Linked DNA regions of Homo sapiens: region 1 is linked to region 2. The links come from fine-mapping of genetic effects on gene expression. A gene starts in region 2. The other region holds a variant in brackets. All regions are shown on one strand. Distances are between the middles of the regions.

Region 1 (11,296 bases), 160 kb after region 2:
GTACAATGAAATCCAATAAAGAATTTGTTCCAGGGGAATGAGAAGGTAAGATTTGCATTTATAGATAGAACTGTGCTGTGAAGGATGCAGTAGAGAATGCAAGGCAGATTCATGGAAGTCCAGCTGTGAAGATCCTAAACTGATCTCAGTAAGTACACAGGGATGATGGTGGCCTTGCTGTACAGTGCATCAGCATCGATGACGGCGATAGACACACACAGTATCAGAGATACTGCAGAGACAGAGAATTGGATGGAACACTTGTCTCTGTTTAACTAGAGATACAGAAATATCAGAGCCAATCATTGTCATTTTTCTCTCCCTTACACGCAGTATTTCAATGTGCTGGGAGTGGTATGGGTAAGATTGTATTGAAATGATTACTTCTGGTTACCCCAATTGAGAAAGCATGTGTACATAAGCAATGTATTTATAGGAGATGGAGGGCATAAGAACACCAAAATATCACATTGAAGTACCTGGCATTTGTGAACTAAATTAGCATTAAGTCTTGAGGGATGCTAGGGAGGGAAAAAAGGGGCTCTTCTATGTTGAGTTCATGGCTGTTGCTCTGTCATAACAACCCTGCCTCCCCTTACACCTTCCTCCCCTTCCAGCAGCTTCACAGATGGTGGCTGATGAGTTAACTTAGGGGATGCATGGGGTGTGGTGAGAAGTCTGTTTTCCCTGTAGAACACTTGTGAGTCTTGTAAGGTTCAAGATGTAACTGTTCCCATCATCCTGTGCTTCTCTTCTAGATGTCAGCCAGGAAGAATCTCCCTCCCTAATAGCAGGTAAATCCCGATTCATTCTCAATCTGTTCTGACTGTCTTTTTCTGCTTATGAATGGATCAGTTCTCCAGTGTCTTCTTATCAAAACTTTCCTTTCGGGAATTGATTAATGTTAGTGCTCCTAATAATATAGGCACTCTTCATGCAACCTTGATTCTGGGCATCATGAGCAGGCCACCAAATTGAACGGCAGAGATGCTTGGCTTAGATGACAGCAGGAGTGGGTTACCTCATCCCCCTGGCCAGGAGTGCCTGCTGGGAGATGACAGACAAATGGGCAGCATCCTCATTCTGTCTCCTCTTTATAATGAGAGGCCCTCAACTGCTTTGTTCTTCCCTGGCGCTCCACTCCAGAGTTCTATGTCTTCACTGAAATGCAAAGAAATTAATGTCTTGGTCTCATTTTTGTGTGTTTCCCCACTCAGCTTGTTACCCAAACTGATAAAAATTTACTGCAACTATTCAGGGAATCTTGTATGGGCTTTTACTCTGTCTTTCTCTTCTCTCTTTGTTCTCCAGGAAATCCACAAGGAGCACCCCCACAAGGAGGCAACAAACCTCAAGGTCCCCCATCTCCTCCAGGAAAGCCACAAGGACCACCCCCACAAGGAGGCAACCAGCCTCAAGGTCCCCCACCTCCTCCAGGAAAGCCACAAGGACCACCCCCACAAGGAGGCAACAAACCTCAAGGTCCCCCACCTCCAGGAAAGCCACAAGGACCACCCCCACAAGGAGACAAGTCCCGAAGTCCCCGATCTCCTCCAGGAAAGCCACAAGGACCACCCCCACAAGGAGGCAACCAGCCTCAAGGTCCTCCACCTCCTCCAGGAAAGCCACAAGGACCACCCCCACAAGGAGGCAACAAACCTCAAGGTCCCCCACCTCCAGGAAAGCCACAAGGACCACCCCCACAAGGAGACAACAAGTCCCGAAGTTCTCGATCTCCTCCAGGAAAGCCACAAGGACCACCCCCACAAGGAGGCAACCAGCCCCAAGGTCCCCCACCTCCTCCAGGAAAGCCACAAGGACCACCCCCACAAGGAGGCAACAAACCTCAAGGTCCCCCACCTCCAGGAAAGCCACAAGGACCACCCCCACAAGGAGACAACAAGTCCCAAAGTGCCCGATCTCCTCCAGGAAAGCCACAAGGACCACCCCCACAAGGAGGCAACCAGCCCCAAGGTCCCCCACCTCCTCCAGGAAAGCCACAAGGACCACCCCCACAAGGAGGCAACAAACCTCAAGGTCCCCCACCTCCAGGAAAGCCACAAGGACCACCCCCACAAGGAGGCAGCAAGTCCCGAAGTTCTCGATCTCCTCCAGGAAAGCCACAAGGACCACCCCCACAAGGAGGCAACCAGCCTCAAGGTCCCCCACCTCCTCCAGGAAAGCCACAAGGACCACCCCCACAAGGAGGCAACAAACCTCAAGGTCCCCCACCTCCAGGAAAGCCACAAGGACCACCCCCACAAGGAGGCAGCAAGTCCCGAAGTGCCCGATCTCCTCCAGGAAAGCCACAAGGACCACCCCAACAAGAAGGCAACAATCCTCAAGGTCCCCCACCTCCAGCAGGAGGCAATCCCCAGCAGCCTCAGGCACCTCCTGCTGGACAGCCCCAGGGACCACCACGCCCTCCTCAAGGGGGCAGACCTTCCAGACCTCCCCAGTGACAGCCTCCCCAGTCATCTAGGATTCAATGACAGGTATGATTCCAGTTTATTCTTCACCAAGTGCTCTAATTGCTACAGCTCTCCAGCTTTATTGTGCCAATGAATCAGCTAAAAGCCCATTGGCATTGTATAGTCCCAGATCCCATTTCTAAAGATTTGTATTGACATATTCTGGAAATGGGTAACAAGATCCTATATTTGTAACAAACTCTTTAAGGAATTCTGATGTTGAGAAACAAAATTCCAAATAATCTGTCTTAAGTTGTGTTGGCAACAAGGAAGTAGTACCATGTTCTCTCTGGCGCTCTGTTTTCTGTGCACAAACTGAGAGACCTCCCATTTAAAGTTTTCACCTGAGCACTGTTTGCTCAGTCCTGCCTCACACCAGCCTCTTGAGTCCAGTATTCCTGCCAAGTGGTCCCTGAACTTTCAGCAGCTAAATGGTGTCTCATTTTTCAAATTCTTACTGTTCAATAAGTACATGATTAAGCTAACAAAAAATATCTAATGCAATGGAAAAATATGAATCTAAATTTAAAGGCATGACTCATCCTACCTGCCTCCCCTCCTTCAGAAAACTGCCACTGTTAACTTTATGGCATCTTCTGTTTGAAATATTTATGTGTACATAGACTACTAGAATATTTTTCCCCCAGAACTAATACCATAATTTATATTCAGGTACATATGTTAGTCATTTAAAAAATACATTTCTTTGAAAATTTCCACATACGTCTATGAAGCTAAGTAGATCTCTTCAGTGGTTATCTGTTTGTTTTTACCATTTTATACTACTCCATTATGTGGCTGCACCGTGATTTCTTTAACCAATCTGTGTCACTGGACACTGAGGGTGGTTTCAGCTTCTCACTGTTATAAAATATGTTCCAGTTCCCATCTGTGTAAATATATCTGTGAACAAATTCAGCAGCAAGTAATAATAAGCTAAGAATGATCTTCTGTCTTCATCACGTAAGGAACAATTTGGAGCACATTTTGTGCAAGGGCATCCAAAGAGTGAACACACAAAAAATTAGGGAGGAAACACAGGAGGTAGAAGGGATAGGGGGAGAGAGGATGGGCTCTCATGTACTGTAGTGCAGTAAGACCAGTGAGGAATTCGACATTTCCTGCCATGTCAAGTCTGGTCTATGAACTTCCTTGTTTGTTTGTTTCAGGAAGTGAATAAGAAGATGAGAGTGATTCAAATGATTCAAATGCCATGACATTGGAAAAAGGTCATCATAGCTCTAACTTCTGTATACCAATAAAATAATTAGCTTGCAATTTCTGATTGTGGTGTCTGTTTCTCAATATTTGTGAATGTGGGATCTGAGGACCAAGAGAAGACATTACACGAATATCTAGGAACCCTTTTCCTTGATGCTCCGGGAAGTTTCCCTCCTCCTTAATCCTAATTTAGCCAGCTGCCATGCAAAAAGGTTTTACTGTTTCTCTACTTCCCTGACTTCTATTTTTTTTCCTCCAAGATGGAGCTTTTTTCACCCAGGCTGGAGTGCAGTGGCACGATCTCGGCTCACTGCCTTCTGCATCTCCTGGGTTCAAGCTATTCTCCTGCCTCAGCCTTCTAAGTATCTGTGATTATAGATGCCCACCATCATGCACAGCTAATTTTTGTATTTTTAGTAGAAACGGGGTTTCACCATGTTGGCCAGGCTAGTCTCCAACTCCTGACCTCAGGTGATCCGCTTTCCTCGGCCTCTGAAACTTCCAGGATTATAGGTGCGAGCCACCATGCCTGGCCCTTCCATGACTTCTACAGCATAAATTGAAATTTTAAAATTATTTTCTGATTGTTTACTGATATTCCAGTGATCTTAAGGACAGAAAACACAACAAATGCAAAAAAGTCACAGAAGCTGAAAGAGATCCTTATAATTTCTAAGAAGCTGAGTTTGGTTTCAAGGGAATGAATATGGGTCTATGCTTCTTATCCCCAGAACCCTCTCTATCTCATTGACCCTATTTTAACAGTGATCACTTCTCTCCCTTCCTATTTTCCTCATCTTTCTTCAACGAAACCTGAATGGACTTCATTAAAGAGACAGCATGATTTTAAGAAGCAAAAATTTTGGACACTCTCAGGTTTTAATTAAGACCTAACTGTTTTTCTTACTATCTCTGGAGTCTTAAAAGTTTACTTAGACTCTCAGGGCTTCAAATTCCTCATCTAAAATGAGAATAATCATAACAACTACCTTAGAGTATGGAAACTAATGAGATAACATATATACCAAAAACATTGCAGAGACTGGCATGTCTGCTTCTCAAGCAAGGAAGGTTCAATATTAGAAAACTGCCCCTGTGCCCACCGATAGCCTCAGATAATTCACTAAGAAGTCGGAAAAATCCGAACAGAATGATCTCACCATAACCACCACTAAGTTGAGCAACCCAGTTGCAGCCCTGGTCTCTGGCTTCTCTCCTATTATCATAGGTGAAGCATTCCTACCCCTATCTCTCACCTTCCCACTTGATTCTGAACCACATTGCCCAATCAAGGATTTTGCTTCTGCATGTGACCCTTTTGTCTTGTGATTGTTACATCTATGCTCTATGGGATTACTTCAATCAGCAAAAGCCTGCTGAAACATCACCCATTTCCACAGAAGTCTTCCTAAGACTCTTAGTGCTTCTTTCCCACCATATTATTTGCCTGCCATTTTTATTGGAAAAGTTCTTGAAACGTATGTATGTGATTATTTCCCCATTCCCCCACCTCCAAATTTTTCATATGTACACGTTATAGATGCTTTTGTTCTTTTCACTTCAAGTCTGTAAAGATCATCTACTGCCTCCATTCTACTCATTTCAGGAATCAACTCTCAGTCCCGCATCTCCTGTGACCCCTCAGCAGTTTAACACCACTGATCCTACCCTTCTTTTGGGAACACTCTATCAATCTTTCCAGGAGCCTCCCCCTCTCTCCTAGGGTTTCTCCTATCTCTGCCTCTTCCCTCCTACAGCTACAAAGTTCTTCCTCTTCCAGCTCTTTTTGGTCTTGGTAAAGAATTCATTTAATTAATTAAGCAAACTAGGATTTATTCTTGACTCTTCTCTTTTCCTCTTTCATCACATTACATCTAGTCAAATCAGCTATGTTATCTTTGTGACGTTCAAGCTTCAAAATAATTTCCTACTGCAGCCAGTTTCATCACTTTCATCTCTATCAGCCCCTCTAAGCAAGCCTCACCTGCAGTTTACACCAAATAGTTCTATTTATTTCCCAACAGTCAATTACCCACCTTGGCCATTTAAAAATTATATTACTTTTCTATGTTTTCCAGTTGATTGCCACCACTTTTACT[C/G]TATAAGAACCAGACAGTATTTTTTTTTTTTAGACAGAGTCTTCCTCTGTTTCCCAGGCTGGAGTGCAGTGGCAAGTTCTCAGCTCACTACAACCTCTGCCTCCTGGGTTCAAGTGATTCTACTGCCTCAGCCTCCTGAATAGCTGGGATTACAGGTGTGCGCAACCACACCCAGCTAAATTTTTGTATTTTTAGTTGAGTAGGGGTTTCACTAAGTTAGCCAGGCTTGTCTTGAACTCCTGACCTTGGGAACCACCTGCCTCATACTCCCACAGCACTGGGATTACAGAGGTGAGCCAGTGCGCCCACCTGCTAATTTTTACCTATGCTAAAGTCCGATGTATTCAGTCCTAACTCTCTGTGGAATTGGGGGATGCTCTACACCTAATTCATTCTGCTATGGCCACGCTGGTCATTGTCTTTTTTTTATGGTGGGGTATGGAAGCAGTATGCTTAGATTTTCTGTTAATTAAAAAAATATTTTTGAACAAATACAAGTTTTGATTTTGTTACATAGATTACATAGTACTTAAGTCACAGCATTAGGGTATTCCTCACTCAAATAACAAACACTACATTTATTAATACCTCACTATACAACCGCTCTGCCTCCCATACTCCCAAGTGTTCTTTGTCTATCATTTCACTCTCTACATCCATGCAGACACATTCTTTAGCAACCACTTAACAGTGAGAACGTGTTATATTTGATTTTCTGTATCTAGCCTCTTTGGCTTAAGAAAATGACTCCCAGTTCCATCCATATTGTCACAATATGTGTGATTTCATTCTCTCTTTGTAATTGAGTAGTATGGTATTGTGTATATATATTTACATTTTTTAATCCAATCATTCATTGACAGATACATTGGTAGATTCAATATCTTTGTTACTGTGAATGTTGCTACAATAAACATACAGATAAATGTATATATTTGATACATTGACTACTTTTCCTTTGAGGAGATACCCAGTAGTAGGATTGCTCAATGGAAATGTAGTTCTAGTTTTAGTTCTTTGAGAAATCATACTGTTTTCCATAGAAGCTGTACTAATGTATATTCTCACCAAGGGTGTTTAAGAGTTCTCCTTTCTCCCTATCCTTGCCAACAGCTGTTATTTTTCACCCTTTTAATAATAGTCATTATGACTGAGGTAAGATGATATCTCATTGTGGTTTTCATTCACATTACTCTAATGATTAGAGATGTTGAACATGTTTTCATTTACTGTTGGCTGTTTGTATGTATTCTTTTGAAACACATCTATTCATGTCCTTTGTCTATTTTTAATTGATTTTTTGTTGTTGTTGCTGAGTAGTTTGAGTTCCTTGTATACTCTGCATATTAGTTCCCTGTATGATGCATAGTTTACAAATATTTTCCCTCTGCATGTTGCCTGTTGACACTGTTGATTTATTTTGCTTGTAAAATATTTTAGATAAATTAAGTGCCATTTGTCCAATTTGATTTTTGTTGCCTGTGCTTTGACGTCTTAGTCATAAGTTCTTTTCTCAGCCAATGTCCAGAAGTTTTCTTCTTGTATTAATATATGCCCACATTTTACATTTAAGTCTTTAATCCATCCTGAGTTATTTTTCTATATGAGAGATGTGAGAGATAGTGTTCCAGTTTCATTCTTCTGCATATGGCAATCCAATTTTCTCAGCATCATTTATTGAAATGAGTGATGTTTCCCAAGTGTGCGTTCTTGTCTGCTTTGTCAAAGATCAGTTGCCTGCAAATATGTTGCTTTATTTCTGGATCTTTTACTCTGTTCCATTGATCTATGTGCCTATTTTTAGACCAGTCATATCCTGTTTTCATTACTGCAGTCTTGTCGTATAATTTGAATTCAGGCAATGCGACACTTCCAAATTTGTTTATTTTGCCTAGGATTGCTTTGGGTCTTTTGGCTCTTATGTTTTCCTTCTGTAAGTAATGTTGGATTATTTTTTACCAATTCTGTGAAAAATGACATTGATATTTTGATAAAGATTGAATCTGTTGATTTCTTTGGACACTACAGTTGGCCTTGTTAACATTCTTTCAACATACTAAGTTTGTTCCTAACTTTATCAAGCATGTGTTTGCATTTTATTCAAGTATGCTCACATCTTCCCACATTAAAGTCTTCTTTGAATACACAGAACCCCTTATTCTCTTAAACTTTCTTTAATGATTTATCAAATCATTGTCACTTTGAGATAGTCATATGCAATATTCCTACTATCTAATATTAGCACTCTTATGTAGTCCCCACCACATTATATCAGGATTGGTTTCTGTGACCAGCAAAATATGGCAGAAATGGTGGTATGTTACCACTGAGATTAAGTTAAAATTGAAACTGTGGCTTCATCTTTTATTTTTCAATTCGCCCCTTCTCTCTGTCTCTTTCTCTTCCTCTGTCTCCTTCTCTCAGACAGCACTTGCACTGGGAACACCCAGCTGCCATGTGAAGCAGCTCTATGGAGTGAATCTCTAAACATCTCTCCCCTTGGGGGCAACAGAGGAGTAGACACCTACAGAGAAGAAGGAAAAGTCTCCCACCTCCAATTCTTCAGTCTGCACCTGACCTCTATAACAAGCTCACTGTTCTAGAGTTGATTTCTATATGGAGACCAGAGTGGTGAGTGACAGGCATGGTTCTTCTGCCTCCTACTTAGCCTTGCTAGAAAGTCAGATGACAGCTCCAACTACTGAGGTCCCTTCACTAGTGATTTTTTTTCCTTTTTTTTAGAATGAGGAGGCTTTCTTTGTGTTGTGTTCATGATTGTTCTCTACTGTCACCAATGTCAACACTACTCTGTGCCTGAATTTACATGTTAATTACATTTATCTTTCTGTCCTTGCAAAACTTACATGCCCAACAACAAATTTAGTAATTACCTGTTTTCTCAATCATTTGCTTTGTTTTAAAAACATCTAAGTCTTCCTTCAACTTCCAACGGACCTGCAAAATCCCACCTAGCACAATTTTCCTCACTCTCAAATGTCAGATAATTGGCTTTTGTCCTGGAAATTCCCATTTCTCCCTTTTAAGTAGGATAATGCATATCCTGAGTTACTGTCTTCCTGTTTCTTGGTTTTCTTCTTCTGTGAAACATATGCTAGCATAGCTTCAGCATATGAGAAGTAAACTATTTCAAGGTTTTTCGTGTTGCCAGATGTGTTATGTGACCTTCACACTTAAGTGATTACCTGAATGGATATAGGATTCTAGTTTGATTGCTATTTTTACCTAGAGTTTTTAAACCTTTATTCCACCACAGCAACAAGGAACCATCTTGGAAGCAAACAGAAGCCCTCACCAAACACTGAATCTGTTGATGCCTTAATCTTAGACTTCCTAGCCTACGGAACATTGGGAAACAAATTTCTATTCTTTAATCATGACCCAGTCTACAGTCTTGTTGTTACAGTAGAAATGGACTAACACACAACCCCATCTGAGGTCTAATTAGTAAACATACATCTAAAAGCAAAACCAAAAGAAACAACAGCAAAAAAACACGGTTGGGCTGTCTTCTGACTTCTATTTTTCCATGTAGTTTCTGATACTCAATATCTTCTCTATGACTGCTTTTTCAGGGCATGTTTTACCTTACCCATTATCTATCACTTGTATCTGAGTTTATTTTCTGGACCTGGTTTCTTCTGACGTTCTTGGAAGTGAATAAATGTAGAAGTAAATAGCAAGAAAGTGGTGGAGTACAGTAAGCAAGAACATAGGCTCTGATGACTGACTGCCATCTCTACCACTTATTACTATTTTAGCAACTTTGGCTTGTGCCCACTCAGCTCACCTATAAAATTGAGATGGTAGTATGCAGGATTCTTACCTGATAAGCTGGTTCTGAAGATTAAATGGCATACAGTAAATGCTTAAGAAATATTTTTACTATAATCAGCCATGGCTACAATATGTTCATAGAATATGAATACCGCAAAATAATTGTGAAATATGTGTTTTTAAGACAAAACATAATATAAAAATATATGAACCAGTATCATAATTGTGTAACCAGGATTCCTCTGATACACATGAACCCCTCCCAGACCATAGGGACTTCATGCAATTTACTCGATCACATCACAAGTCCATCCACTCTGTTAATGTTCATCTCTCCTGGTAGACAACCCTCTTGTGTTGCAGTCAAGCTAGTTCAAGATGAAGTTGAGGAAGATTCTGCTTTCTGTCCTATTCAAAGAATCACCCACTTTTCAATAAAGAGAAAGTCATATAGGTATGAAGGAGCTGGCATATGAAATCCAAATCTGATTACCAGTGTAATAAAAAACTGTGATGGATGTGATGTACAAATGCGATATGGTCTAATTTTCTTTTCTTTTTTTATTATACTTTAAGTTCTAGGGTATATGTGCACAGGGTTTGTTACATATGTATACATGTGCCATGTTGGTGTGCTGCACCTATTAACTCATCATTTCCATTGGGTATATCTCCTAATGTTATCCCTCCCCCCTCCCCCCAACCCATGGCAGGCCCCAGTGTGTGATGTTCCCCTTCCTGTGTCCAAGTTTTCTCATTGTTCAATTCCCACCTATGAGTGAGAACATGCAGTGTTTGGTTTTTTGTCCCCGTGATACTTTGCTGAGAATGATGGTTTCCAGCTTCATCCATGTCCCTACAAAGGACATGAACTCATCATTTTTTATGGCTGCATAGTATTCCATGGTGTGTGTGTGCCACGTTTTCTTAATCCAGTCTATCATTGATGGACATTTGGGTTGGTTCCAAGTCTTTGCTATCGTGAATAGTGCCGCAATAAACATACGTGTGCATGTGTCTTTATAGCAGCATGATTTATAATCCTTTGGGTATATACCCAGTAATGGGATTGCTGGGTCAAATGGTATTTCTAGTTCTAGATCCTTGAAGAATCACCACACTGTCTTCCACAGTGGTTGAACCAGTTTACAGTCTCACCAACGTGTAAAAGTGTTCCTATTTCTCCATTATTATTATTAAAGTATAATAATAAAAAAGATAAAGATCTTGACATTAAAAAAAAAGAAGTGTTGAAATGATGGTGAAGGTGAACCTTGCAGCAGTAGTCCCTTCACATTAACTTACGGACAAAAATTGTATCTTCTTGTGGCCTAATTGAAGAGGTCTGACAATCAACAGCAGAAAAAAGAGCTAGCACAAGAAGAACAATTGATTCAGATTACATAATTTTTTCTGTCTAAAAAACTAAATACGAACAAACTAGCCACTTGATGAGGGCCAAAACTGCTGTACCTGTCAGCTACAGACAAGAAGAGAACGTTCTGTGACAAATTAAACAAGTAGGAAGGAAAAGAAAAGAAAAAAAAATCCTAAAGCATTTCTTTGAAGAGTTGTAACAGGAAATAAAACATGGCTTTACCAGTGGCATTCAAAGGGACAAACACAATGAAAGCAATGGCTACCAAGAGGTGGAAGTGGTCTAGTCTAAGTAAATGCAACAAAAGCAAATATCATGCCAACAGTGTTTTT
Region 2 (11,296 bases):
ACAATCAAGATAATGAACATGGCTGGGCAAGGTGGCTCACGCCTGTAATCCCAGTGCTTTGGGAGTCATAAGTGGGAGGATTTCCTTGAGACCAGGAGTTCAAGACCAGCCCCAGGCAACATAGTGAGACCTCATCTCCACCAAAAGAAAAAAAACAGCCAGGCATGGTGGGCTGAGCCTGTAGTCCCAGTTGCTTGGCAGGAAGATCCCGTGGGCCCTGGAGTTTGAGGATGCAGTGAGCTATGAGCTGGGTGACAGAGCATGACCCTGTCTCTAAAAAAGCAAAAAAAAAAAAAGGATATTCATATCCTCCCCACCAAGTTTCCTTGTTGTGCCCCCTTCGTAATCCTGACTCCTCTCTCCTCTGGCCCATCCCACTCAGACAACCAGTGACCTGCTTTCCGTCACTTTGGATGAGTTTGCATTTTCTAGGATACTTGTACATTTTTTTCATTTTGAAACAATTTCAAACTTATGGAAAAGTTGCAGGTGTAGTAGCACAAGAGCTTCCGTACACCTTTCATCCGGATTCCCCAGTTGTTAACATTTTACCATGTTTGTCTTCTTATTCTATCTACACATTTATACGTATTATTGCTCTTAAATTTTTCTGAACCAGGTGAGAACAGTTGCAAATATGATGCCCCATGAGCCTTTACTACTTTGGCATGTATTTCCTTAAAATGAGGACATTTCTATAACCAGAGTGCATCCATCAAGATCGGGACATTACATGGGGTGCGGTGGCACATGCCTGTAATTCCAGGTACTTGAGAGGCTGAGACAGGAGAATCGCTTGAACCCAGGAGGTGGAGGTTGCAGTGAGCCGGGATTGTACCACTGCACTCCAGTCTGGATGACAGGGACTCTGTTTCAAAAAAAAAAAAAAAAAAAAAAAAAAAGAGAAAGGAAAAAGAAATGAAAAAGATCAGGAATTTAACATTGATGTAATAAAGCCACAATCCGTAGACTCCATTCAGATTTCACCAATTTTACAATAACGTTCTTTATAATTCCAGAATCCAACCCAGGATCATGTGTTGTGTTTAGTCATTATATCTCTGTTAGTCTCCCTTAATCAGGAACATTTTCTCATTCTTTCCTTGTTTTTCATAACCTGGGTGTTTTTAAAGAGAACAGGCTAATTACTTCGTAGAATGTCCCTCAGTTTGGGTTTGTCTGATGTTACCTTATTGTCAGATTTGGGTGGTGCGTTTTTGGCAGGACGTTCACAGAAATGATGCTGTGTTTTCTCAGTTTGTTAGAGTAACTTAATATAGATTTATCCTGTTTATAGACAACATTATATGTTAGCACTCGATTAAGATGATATTGGCTAGGTTTCTATGCTATAGAGCTAACTAGTAAGTAATTTGTATTTCTAAACTACTAATAAGCACTAAATATTTTGGGGGAGATACTTTGAGATTGTATCCATTTCCTCATCAAATTTTCACCTACTAGCTTTTCCATCCAATGATGATTCTATCTAAATTAGTTATAACTATAATGGTTGCAAAATAATAATTTTCTGGCTGGGTGTGGTGGCTCATGCCTATTATCCCAGCACTTTGGGAGGCTGAGGTGGATTGTTTGAGCCCAGGAGTTGAGACCAGCCTGGGCAACATGATGAAACCTCATTTCTACAAAAAATACAAAAATAGCCGTGTGGTGGCACACGCCTGAAGTCCCAGCTACTTGGGAGGCTGAGGTGGGAGAATTGCTTGAGCCCAGCAGGTTGAGGCTGCAGTGAACTGTGACTGCACCACTGCACTCCAACCTGGGTGACAGAGCAAGACCCTGTCTCAAAATAATAACAATTTTCTAATTCCATAATTATATTTACATTGATTAGTTGGCATTTACTATAAGTTAGAGCTCTCTCTTCTCTCTCATATTTATTCATTCATGTATTATATAAGTATGGATTCATGAGATTTGATTTTTCAATGAATTATAATCAGTTACTATCATTTTTTATTTTGATCCACAAAATGACCTAGATGTGGACAACTGGAGCCCCATGAAGTTGGCTCCTGTGTTTATTTATTTATTTATTTATTTTGAGAGGAAGTCTCACTCTATTGCCCAGGCTGGAGCACAATGGTGTGATCTCGGCTCACTGCAAGCTCCACCTCCTGGGTTCACGCTATTGTCCTGTCTCAGCCTCCCGAGTAGCTGGGACTACAGGCGCCCGCCACCACACCTGGCTAATTTTTTTGTATTGTCAGTAGAGATGGGACTTCACCGTGTTACCCAGGATGGTCTGGATCTCCTGACCTTGTGATCCACCCGCCTTGGCCTCCCAAAGTGCTGGGATTACAGGCGTGAGCCACTCCTGTGTCCTTTAGACATGTCCTCATAATTATCTGAGGGCTTCCTTACTTTCAGTACAATAGAGTTCCAGGGTCATCTTGTTCTTTCCCTGCCCCAGCCCTGGTTCCTTTTAGTGGAAAAAGGTATTTAGAAACTGAGATCTAAATGCTAGGATGCTCATTGCAACTGGGGTGTCATTGCTCCTGGACTAGGAAATATAACACATTCATACATTTCTACTTCTCAATTTACCTGTCTATCCCTACCTATCTATCATCTGTCACATTCCTATCTTTAAAATCCATAACTTCGGACTAATGCCTTCAATTCCAATCCAGTATCACATTTTCCCCTTTGCATATTTGTAACTCCTTTCTTCAACAGTGAGAAATTGCATTCCCAGTCTCCTTGATACGTTGACTCATTCACTTGATCCTCCTGCATGTAAGCAATCTCCCAGCTGGGCCAGCCTTGTCCCCTTAGCCCCAGTGCCACCCATCACACCATTTGAGTGTTCCAACTCCAAAAGAAGGGAAGGCGAAATAGGAAATTATTTTTGCTCTTCTCTTCCCTATTCCTTATGTGTATATTATTATTTTCCCTTTTGGATATTGCTCACATCCATTTTCTCCTCTTCAGCTTTACTTCTGTGACTAGAATTCAGGCTTGAACAGGTGCTTCTGGTTTTGTTCCTGGTAATCTGTCCTGCACATAGCAGCCCAGATGATCTTTCACAACAAGAATATGACTATGTTATTTCTCTTTAAAGTCTCCAATGGCTCGTCATTTTCTACAAGGTTAAGTAAGCTCTCTAACTTACCCTGACCTGGCCTCTGTCCATACCTCCATTCTCATATTCATGCCTTCCTCCCTTGGACTATCAGTAGAAGTGAATTTTTGTAGTTGTCTGCATATACCATGTTCCATCACTACCATTTCAGTATGATGCTCCCTTGATTTATGAACCTCTTTCCCCAGTGCACCCTTAGAAATCCTGCTCAGGTGTCACTGTATCTAAGAAGCTTTTTTTGACACTTCTTTCCAACCATTAGTTGTTAATTATCCATACTAATTGGATTTCTTATACATAGTTTTATTATTGCCTATGTCACTCTCCACTATATTTGTTTACATGTCTGTCTTCTCTACTAGGTAACCAATTCAGAGGACAGGAATTGATTTTTGCCATTATAGTTTCAGTATCTAGCACAGTTTCTGCCATGTGTTATACACTTAATAAATACTTATTGAGGCTGGGCGCGGTGGCTCACGCCTGTAATCCCAGCACTTTGGGAGGCCGAGGTGGGTGGATCATGAGGTCAGGAGTTCGAGACCAGCCTGACGAACAATGGTGAAACCCTGTCTCTACTAAGAAAAATACAAAAATTAGCTGGGCATGGTGGCACTCACCTGTAATCCCAGCTGCTCAGGAGGCTGAAGCAGGAGAATCGCTTGAACCCGGGAGGCGGAGGTGCAGTGAGCCCAGGTGGAGTGATGATCGCGCCTCATCACTCCAGCCTGGGCGACAGAGCAAGACTCTGTCTGAAACAAAACAAAACAAAACACAACAAAAACTTATTGAACTGAAACATATATGTATGTGTCTGTGTGTATTTCTTTTTCTTTTCTTTTTGCCTTGGAAGAATGTGGAGAAACATCTGAAAAAGGAGCTGTTTTAAGATACCCAGTTTGTGATCATTTATTATGGCAGCCAAAGCAAATAAATACAGCATCAAGCTTATCAGAATCCACTTGCATCATGCTTGCTAATATCCCCATTGTCAAAGCTAGTCACAAGGCTAAGCCTGCTGTCACCATGAGAGGGGACTATACAAGGGCGTGCATTCTGAGAGGTGTGGTTCATTGGAGAAATCAAAGTAACAGTGTGCAGTGAGATTTATTAGATCATTTCATGTATCATAATAAAAGACATTGAATTTCTGATGAAGGATTTCGAATGTGGTAAAATAATTCAGTGGGAACCCAACGCAGTACCTTGAAAGAGAGTTACCTTGGGTCAAGTACAATAATTGGCACTCAGACCTGACACTTCCTTTTCAATAGACTAAATTCACCATGCAGCAATTATTGGAGCTAACAAAGTGTAATCTGTATTGGAAGAGAGTTATTGAAACCAGTATTTAAAAACATTATAGCAGAACTCTTCAAATAAATTCTTATATTAACACAGAAACAAGTATGGCAGAATACTCACGGTTATTTTATTTAAAGTTGGGTTTTTCGAGTACCCTCTATTTTCATGTATTTTGGGAAATTTTAGTAATGAAAGCAAATAGTGAAACAGAATTAAATATCCATTTTATAAAATACGACAAACAAGAGGAGAGCGGCTCTGAATTCCACCCCTGTGGAATTCAGGACTGCCATAGAGCGTATTTTCAAAACTGTTGATTTTGACAAGGCTGACTAGGAGATGCCCTAGAAGCCCCAGGTATGTGTTTCAGTATGATTCTGGCAACGCTGACTTAAAGCACTAAGTAGAATCAGTAGCCTACAGTGGATACTGCCCCATAAGGAGTGACGGGGGAAACGTTGCTGATTAAATAAATGGTCTTTTGAATTGGGCTGATGGTAGATGCTATAACTGAAGTTGCAAACCACACTGGGTTCGTTTGCTAGGGCTGCTGTAATAAATGACCACAAGCTGGGTATCTTAAAACAGCAGAAAGTTACTCTCTCACAGTTCCGGAGGCCAGAGGTCTGAGATCCGGGTGCTGGTGTGTCCGGAATCGGTGGGTTCTTGGTCTCACCGACTTCAAGAATGAAGCCGCGGACCCTCGCGTGAGTGTTACAGTTCTTAAAGGCGGCGTGTCCGGAGTTTGTTCCTTCTGATGTTCAGATGTGTTTGGAGTTTCTTCCTTCTGGTGGGTTCGTGGTCTCGCTGGCTTCAGGAGTGAAGCTGCAGACCTTCGCGGTGAGTGTTACAGCTCATAAAGGCAGTGTGAACCCAAAGAGTGAGCAGTAGCAAGAGTTATTGCAAAGAGCGAAAGGACAAAGCCTCCACAGTGTGGAAGGGGACCCGAGCGCGTTGCCACTGCTGGCTCGGGCAGCCTGCTTATATTCTCTTATCTGGCCCAACCCACATCCTGCTGATTGGTAGAGCCAATGGTCTGTTTTGACAGGGCGCTGATTGGTGCGTTTACAATCCCTGAGCTAGACACAAAGGTTCTCCACGTCCCCACCAAACTAGCTAGATACCGAGTGTCCACACAAAGGTTCTCCAAGTCCCCACCAGAGTAGCAAGATACAGAGTGTCCATTGGTGCATTCACAAACCCTGAGCTAGACACAGGGTGCTGATTGGTGTGTTTACAAACCTTGAGCTAGATACAGAGTGCCCATTGGTGTATTTACAATCCCTGAGCTACACATAAAGGTTCTCCACGTCCCCACCAGACTCAGGAGCCCAGCTGGCTTCACCCAGTGGATCCCCCACCGGGGCTGCAGGTGGAGCTGCCTGCCAGTGCGGTGCCGTGTGCCTGCACTCCTCAGCCCTTGGGTGGTCGATGGGACTGGGCTCCGCGGAGCAGGGGGTGGCGCTTGTCGGGGAGACTCCGGCTGCACAGGAGCCCACGGAGGTGGGGGAGGCTCAGGCATGGCGGGCTGCAGGTCCCGAGCCCTGCCCCGCGGGAAGGCAGCTAAAGCCTGGCGAGAAATTGAGCACAGCAGCTGCTGGCCCAGGTGATAAGCCCTTCACTGCTCGGGCTGGTGGGGCCGGCCTGCCGCTCCGAGTGCTGGGTCCGCCGAGCCCACGCCCACCCGGAACTCGCGCTGGCCCGGAAGCACCGCGCGCAGCCCCTGTTCCCGCCCGCGCCTCTCCCTCCACACCTCCCTGCAAGCTGAGGGAGCCGGCTCCGGCCTTGGCCAGCCCAGCAAGGGGCTCCCACAGTGCAGCGGTGGGCTAAAGGGCTCCTCAAGTGCCGCCAAAGTGGGAGCCCAGGCAGAGGAGGCGCCGAGAGCGAGCAGGGCTGTGAGGACTGCCAGCACGCTGTCACCTCTCACTGGCAGGGTTAGGTTTTTCTGGGGGCTGTGAGAGAGAAACCAGTCTGTGCGTCTCTTTGGCATTCCTGGGCATCCCTCCAGGCTCCGCCTGTGCTGTCACACTGAGTTCCCCCTGTGTGTCTGCTTTCTCCTCTTATAAGTGATATAGGAGTTAAGAAGAAATTATTTAGGCAGATAGTGAGGGTAAGGAAGTCCTCAGTAAGGTTTTCCTTTTAATGAAAAGCAGCCCTCAAATCGTTTTCTTTTCTTACAATGAGCAGCCTGTAAAATCAAGCTGCAGACATAGACAAGCAAGCTAGAAGCTTGCACGGGTGAATGCCAGCAGCTGTGCCAATAGGAAAAGGCCACCTGGGACTAGGCATGTCCAACTTCGTATACTTGGTCATCATTTCCTACATTCTCACACAGAAGAGAGCACTCAAAAAATAGTTTTGAGAATCATTTGCTAATGATTTAATACTATTATAAGGGAATAAAAGACTTTTCTTTTAAATGAGTGCTTAAAGGCGATTGGAAGCCCTGCTAAAGTTCAGGGGTGAATGCCTTATTATTTTTTTATATTTGGGGGCAAGGGCTTTCCAGTGAAGACTGGAAAACCTGCTAGACAGATTCTAAAAGAGCTGTAACACTGGGTGAATGCTGTAGAAGCACATAGTGTTAGTAAGGTGTGGGTCAGATACGGCTTTAGAGAATGTAGCAACTGAAAGCCCAGATGGGAAGCTCCGTAGGCAGCTGGATAAGCTAATATTTCTAAATAATATGTTCAGAGATTCGGACTGAATGCAATTGCAACCTTCTCCACCAGTCAGCAGTGAGTTCTGAAGTTACAGAAGTGTGATGAATTGCGGTCAATATGGGTTCTACCTTCACTTTGGAGTCAGTCAGTGACCTTAAAATACCTGCCCAGCTGAATTTTCTTAGAGTGCTTCATTTCCTGTGGGCCCTTTTACTCCAAATTCCAGATGATGGCTTTTAGTCTGTGGGGCCGCTTTAAGAGGCAGAAATCTGATCAGAACTACTAGAAGGCTGTGAAGGTGCTGCTGTGTGGACAGGCAGGGCAGAGTGCTCAAGGCTTTCCAATGCTCCTGCAATGGATCCTCCCTACCCAGCCCACAACCTGGCAGCTCAGGGGCCAACTGTTCTCTGTTGCTTTCTACTATCATGAACACAGGAAATGGGGGTGGGTAGCTTCTGGTTTCTGATTGAGGGAGTAGAAAGTGATGCTGCAGGGATCAAAAGCAGAGAAGCTTTTAAGCCATTTGAGAAACTGTGTCCGAAGGCAAGCGGATTTTAGCAGTAGCAGCAGCAGACCCCAGAAAAATTTGAAGAAGCATTAGTTTGTGCACTGTTAATGCCACTCTCTCATGAATGAAGAGAAGAAGGCAGGCCTAATGAAGGCTTTCCTAATGAAGGCTGAAGGCAGGCCGCTATTTGCCAAAGGTGCTGAGTGGCAGGGGGAGGAAGGGAAGGAAGCTGTGCAGTGTGTACTGCTTGCTTATCAGGAATCACGTCATTTCCTGTGTAAAGGGGCTGTGTGGTCTCCAGGGGCACTGGGAAGCCTTGGATGGCATGATTTCACCTTCTTCTTGCTCATCATTGAGGAGCTCTCATTAGTTAATGCTAGCCCTATTCATTTCATCATACATCTATTGTGTTCATACTGTGTTCTGAGCTCCGTGTTTAATCTTCGCAGGCTCATGAAGAGGAGTTAAGGATACTTTTGTCTTGAAAATGCTAACAGTCCCTCATGTGCTTGGGACCAGGGCTGCTGGAAAACCCACTAAGCAGCACACGGGAAACTAGAAAAGCAGAGGAACAAAGTTTTGGGGTTTTTGGGAGAGGGGGTGAAGAATGACATATTTTATTCCAAAAGCATAAAATATTTAATAGTGGAAACTATGAATGATACTGTTTAATTTTTAGGAGGCCAAAATATTTTAAGATTTATAAGTTTTAAGCTGGCCTTGGAGTGAGGGCAGAAAATATGTACACAAACAACTCTAATACAAGACTGAATGTGATGTATACCATAACAGAGCACCAAAGTAATAATGAATTGGGAGACAGAAGAACCACAATGTCTTTATAAAGTGGTATTTGAAGTGGACTTTGATGAACAGATAGGCAGGGTTGGAGTGCATGATCACTAAATCCATTCAAACCTTCTAACATTGACTTTTTATGGTGTGGGGGTGGGTGGGATGGGCACGGATTCTCCATGCAAAGGGACTATCTCGGGAACAGACAGTCACGGGGGCGGGGGGACTAAGCTTTCCAGTGTGCCTGGAGAAAAAGGCACATGTGAGGTCATGGATCTCAGGGCCCAGGCTAGTCTAGTTTGGCTGTAGCAGGAAGTGTTCCTCACTCTGCTCAGACCCAGGTACTGCTTCAAACCAGAAAGTCTGGAGAGTGGGCTCCTTCCTCCCCTAATGGGGCAATTTGCCCAAGGACAAAGTCCAGGCTTGCTCCTCCGTATCAGACCCTGCTCTGGGTAGAGGGAAACCACCACATGCTTTCTTGTTTGATGTGCTGAGTGCTCAACTGAGCTGTCTGTGCCCCTACACTGCTTCTGTATACTTAGAGTCAACCTTTAGAGGATGATATTTCAACATTCTGCATGGAGTTTTCTCTGTAAAGTACAATGAGTTTGTGACTGACCAGAACTACAGACATTCCCTTTTGTTTGTGAGCTGCATGACCAATGTGTTTGGCCTCATTAAAAATGAACTGGGCAAGCTGGGCATGGTAGCAACTCAGGAGGCTGAGGTGGGAGTCTCACTGAGCTCAGGAGTTCGAGTCCAGCCTGGGCAACATAGCGAGACCCTGTCTCTAAAAAATATAATAATATAAAATTTTGAAATAAGAATGAACTGGTCAAATAGGAAAGTTTTCAAGGACATCAACTGGTCTTTTCTTGCACAGAGGAGATTCGCAGGATGAAAATACTCTGAGGCTTCTTCCCACTGCAGGGCACAGACCCGAGTTAAGTGTGGCCTGGCCCTCAGCACTTCCCAGGTGCCCTTGGTGCATCCTGGTGCTGACCTGTGCCCCTCCACACTCCTGCTGTGCAGCTCCTGCTACCCTACAGGAACCTGCTCCTGAATAATCCCTGTGTCTCCTCTCTGTGCTCTTATGAGTCACCGAAACTCGCTTGTGAATTTTATTCACAGGGTTTTGACGGCTTCTTTCTATCCAAATTTATTTCCTCCTTGACCTCATTCCTTCTGTCTTGTTGCCATCACCAGTGAAAGCTAATATTATTTACATAGGGAAATGCATAGTGGATGGAAGGATACAGTTCTAGGAGTCACATGACCAGCCAAAAAAAGTTCTGCGTAGACACACACACACACACACACACACACACGTATAAACATATCATAACAAACTTAGCAGCTTGAAGATGAAGATTAATAGTGTTACTGTTTAAGGATCTCAAAGATAAAACATTTGCAAATTTAAAGCACACTTACACATGTATTCCTCTTGAGGACTTGGAAACACAGTTTTGCAGAATAACTCTGGCTGCCAGCTAGCACGGGAAGAGAAGTGTTAAGTGTTGAAAACTGTTAACTGTTCATGGACCAGTATAAATTGAGTCATAGGGGTGAGGTGTTTTTATGTTTGCTATATTTCCTATTTCCACTACTTTCCTGAATAAGTACATTTACTCTGGGTTAATTTTTGAAATAATTTTGAAATTATTCAAAACATTGTTGTGTGTATATGCAAAGACTAGGGAAAAGAAGCTTGGATTGGTAGCAAAAAGCCAACTGTGACTTTGAGCAAATTATTTGACCTCTCTCAATATATCTTTTCTTATTTTAAAATAAGGAGGTTGAACTATATCATTTCTATGCTTTCTTTCATTGTTAGCAATCCACGAATAATGGAACACTGCACAGAATAGTAAACACTGGGTTAAGATCCAGTATTGGCTCGAATCCTTATAACTGTGTGATCTGAATACAGTAATTTCTTCTCCCTGGGCCTTACTTTCTTCATCTGAAAAATTACAGGATTGGCCTCTATCTTCCTTATTGTCTCTTCAGACTCTCATGTTTTGTAGTTTTCCTCAGTTATGGTAGAAATCTCATCCTTCTCTTCTTAACATTTAGTCCTGTGCTCCAGGGAAAGAGGAGGGAGTTGGGAGAGGCCTGATATAATCATTAATTTTCTCCGTCTTTCTCTTTGTTTTGTTTTAACTCTCTTTCTCCTTCCCCCTCCCCACCTTCTCCTCCATTTTTTTTTTTCTAGAACACTGAGAAAGTTTCCTCATAGTCTACTTGGCAGTTGCAGCTGTCCCTAGAATGAGTCCTGAAACCTAGATCTGAGTTGCGGTAGAAAGCCTATTACTTCCTTGCTTGTTTGAAGACAGCCTACTGTAAGCCCTATGGCTTGGAGGTGACCAGGCTCTCCAGGAGATCAACACTTCGAGCCCTGTATGTTTAAGGAATAGTTTTGACTTAGAGTGATAGAGAACACCTAAAGAGACCATGGCTTTTAAAAATAGAAGTTTCTGAGTGTGGTGGTTAATGCCTGTAATCTGGGTACTTTAGGAAGCTGAGACAGGCAGATTGCTCGAGCCCAGGAGTTCAAGACCAGCCTCAACAACATAGTGAGACCCCATCTCTACAAAAAATACACAAATTAGCTGGGCATGGTAGTGCACACCTGCAATCCCAGCTACTCAGGAGGCTAAGGTGGGAGGATCACATGATCCTGGGAGGTTGAGGCCACAGTGAGCTGAGATTGTGCCACTACACTCCAACCTCAGTGAGAGAGTGAGAGCTTATCTGAAAGAAAGAAAGAAAGAAAGAAAGAAAGAAAGAAAGAAAGAAAGAAAGAAAGAAAGAAAGAAAAGAAGGAAGGGAGGGAGGGAGAGAGGGAGGGAAGGGGCTAAAAACAGTTAAGTATTATAAAGCGAGCATCAGTCCAGAAATCCAGCAATAGTCCCT

What was found. PIP is the estimated chance that this variant, and not a neighbour inherited with it, causes the effect.
Region 1: its variant is fine-mapped to the expression of LINC01252 in sun-exposed skin (GTEx, PIP 0.98).

Annotation. Positions count from the first base shown.
Region 1 is chr12:11,383,993-11,395,288 of GRCh38, reverse strand. It overlaps PRB2 (proline rich protein BstNI subfamily 2), which reads left to right. Exons shown (of 4, transcript NM_006248.4): 2 at 759-794; 3 at 1,312-2,495; 4 at 3,641-3,749. The coding sequence ends at 2,462. Among named protein-coding and RNA genes, the nearest start is that of PRB2, 5.9 kb to the left of the region's middle. The variant C/G (reference allele first, on the strand shown) is at 5,792.
Region 2 is chr12:11,542,152-11,553,447 of GRCh38, reverse strand. It overlaps LINC01252 (long intergenic non-protein coding RNA 1252), which reads right to left and starts at 5,418. Exons shown (of 8, transcript NR_033890.1): 1 at 5,088-5,418; 2 at 3,727-3,858; 3 at 755-868. All of the region lies in intron 2 of LOC124902877 (a long non-coding RNA gene), which reads left to right. It also overlaps the pseudogene RNU7-60P. RefSeq lists an enhancer at 8,883-8,942.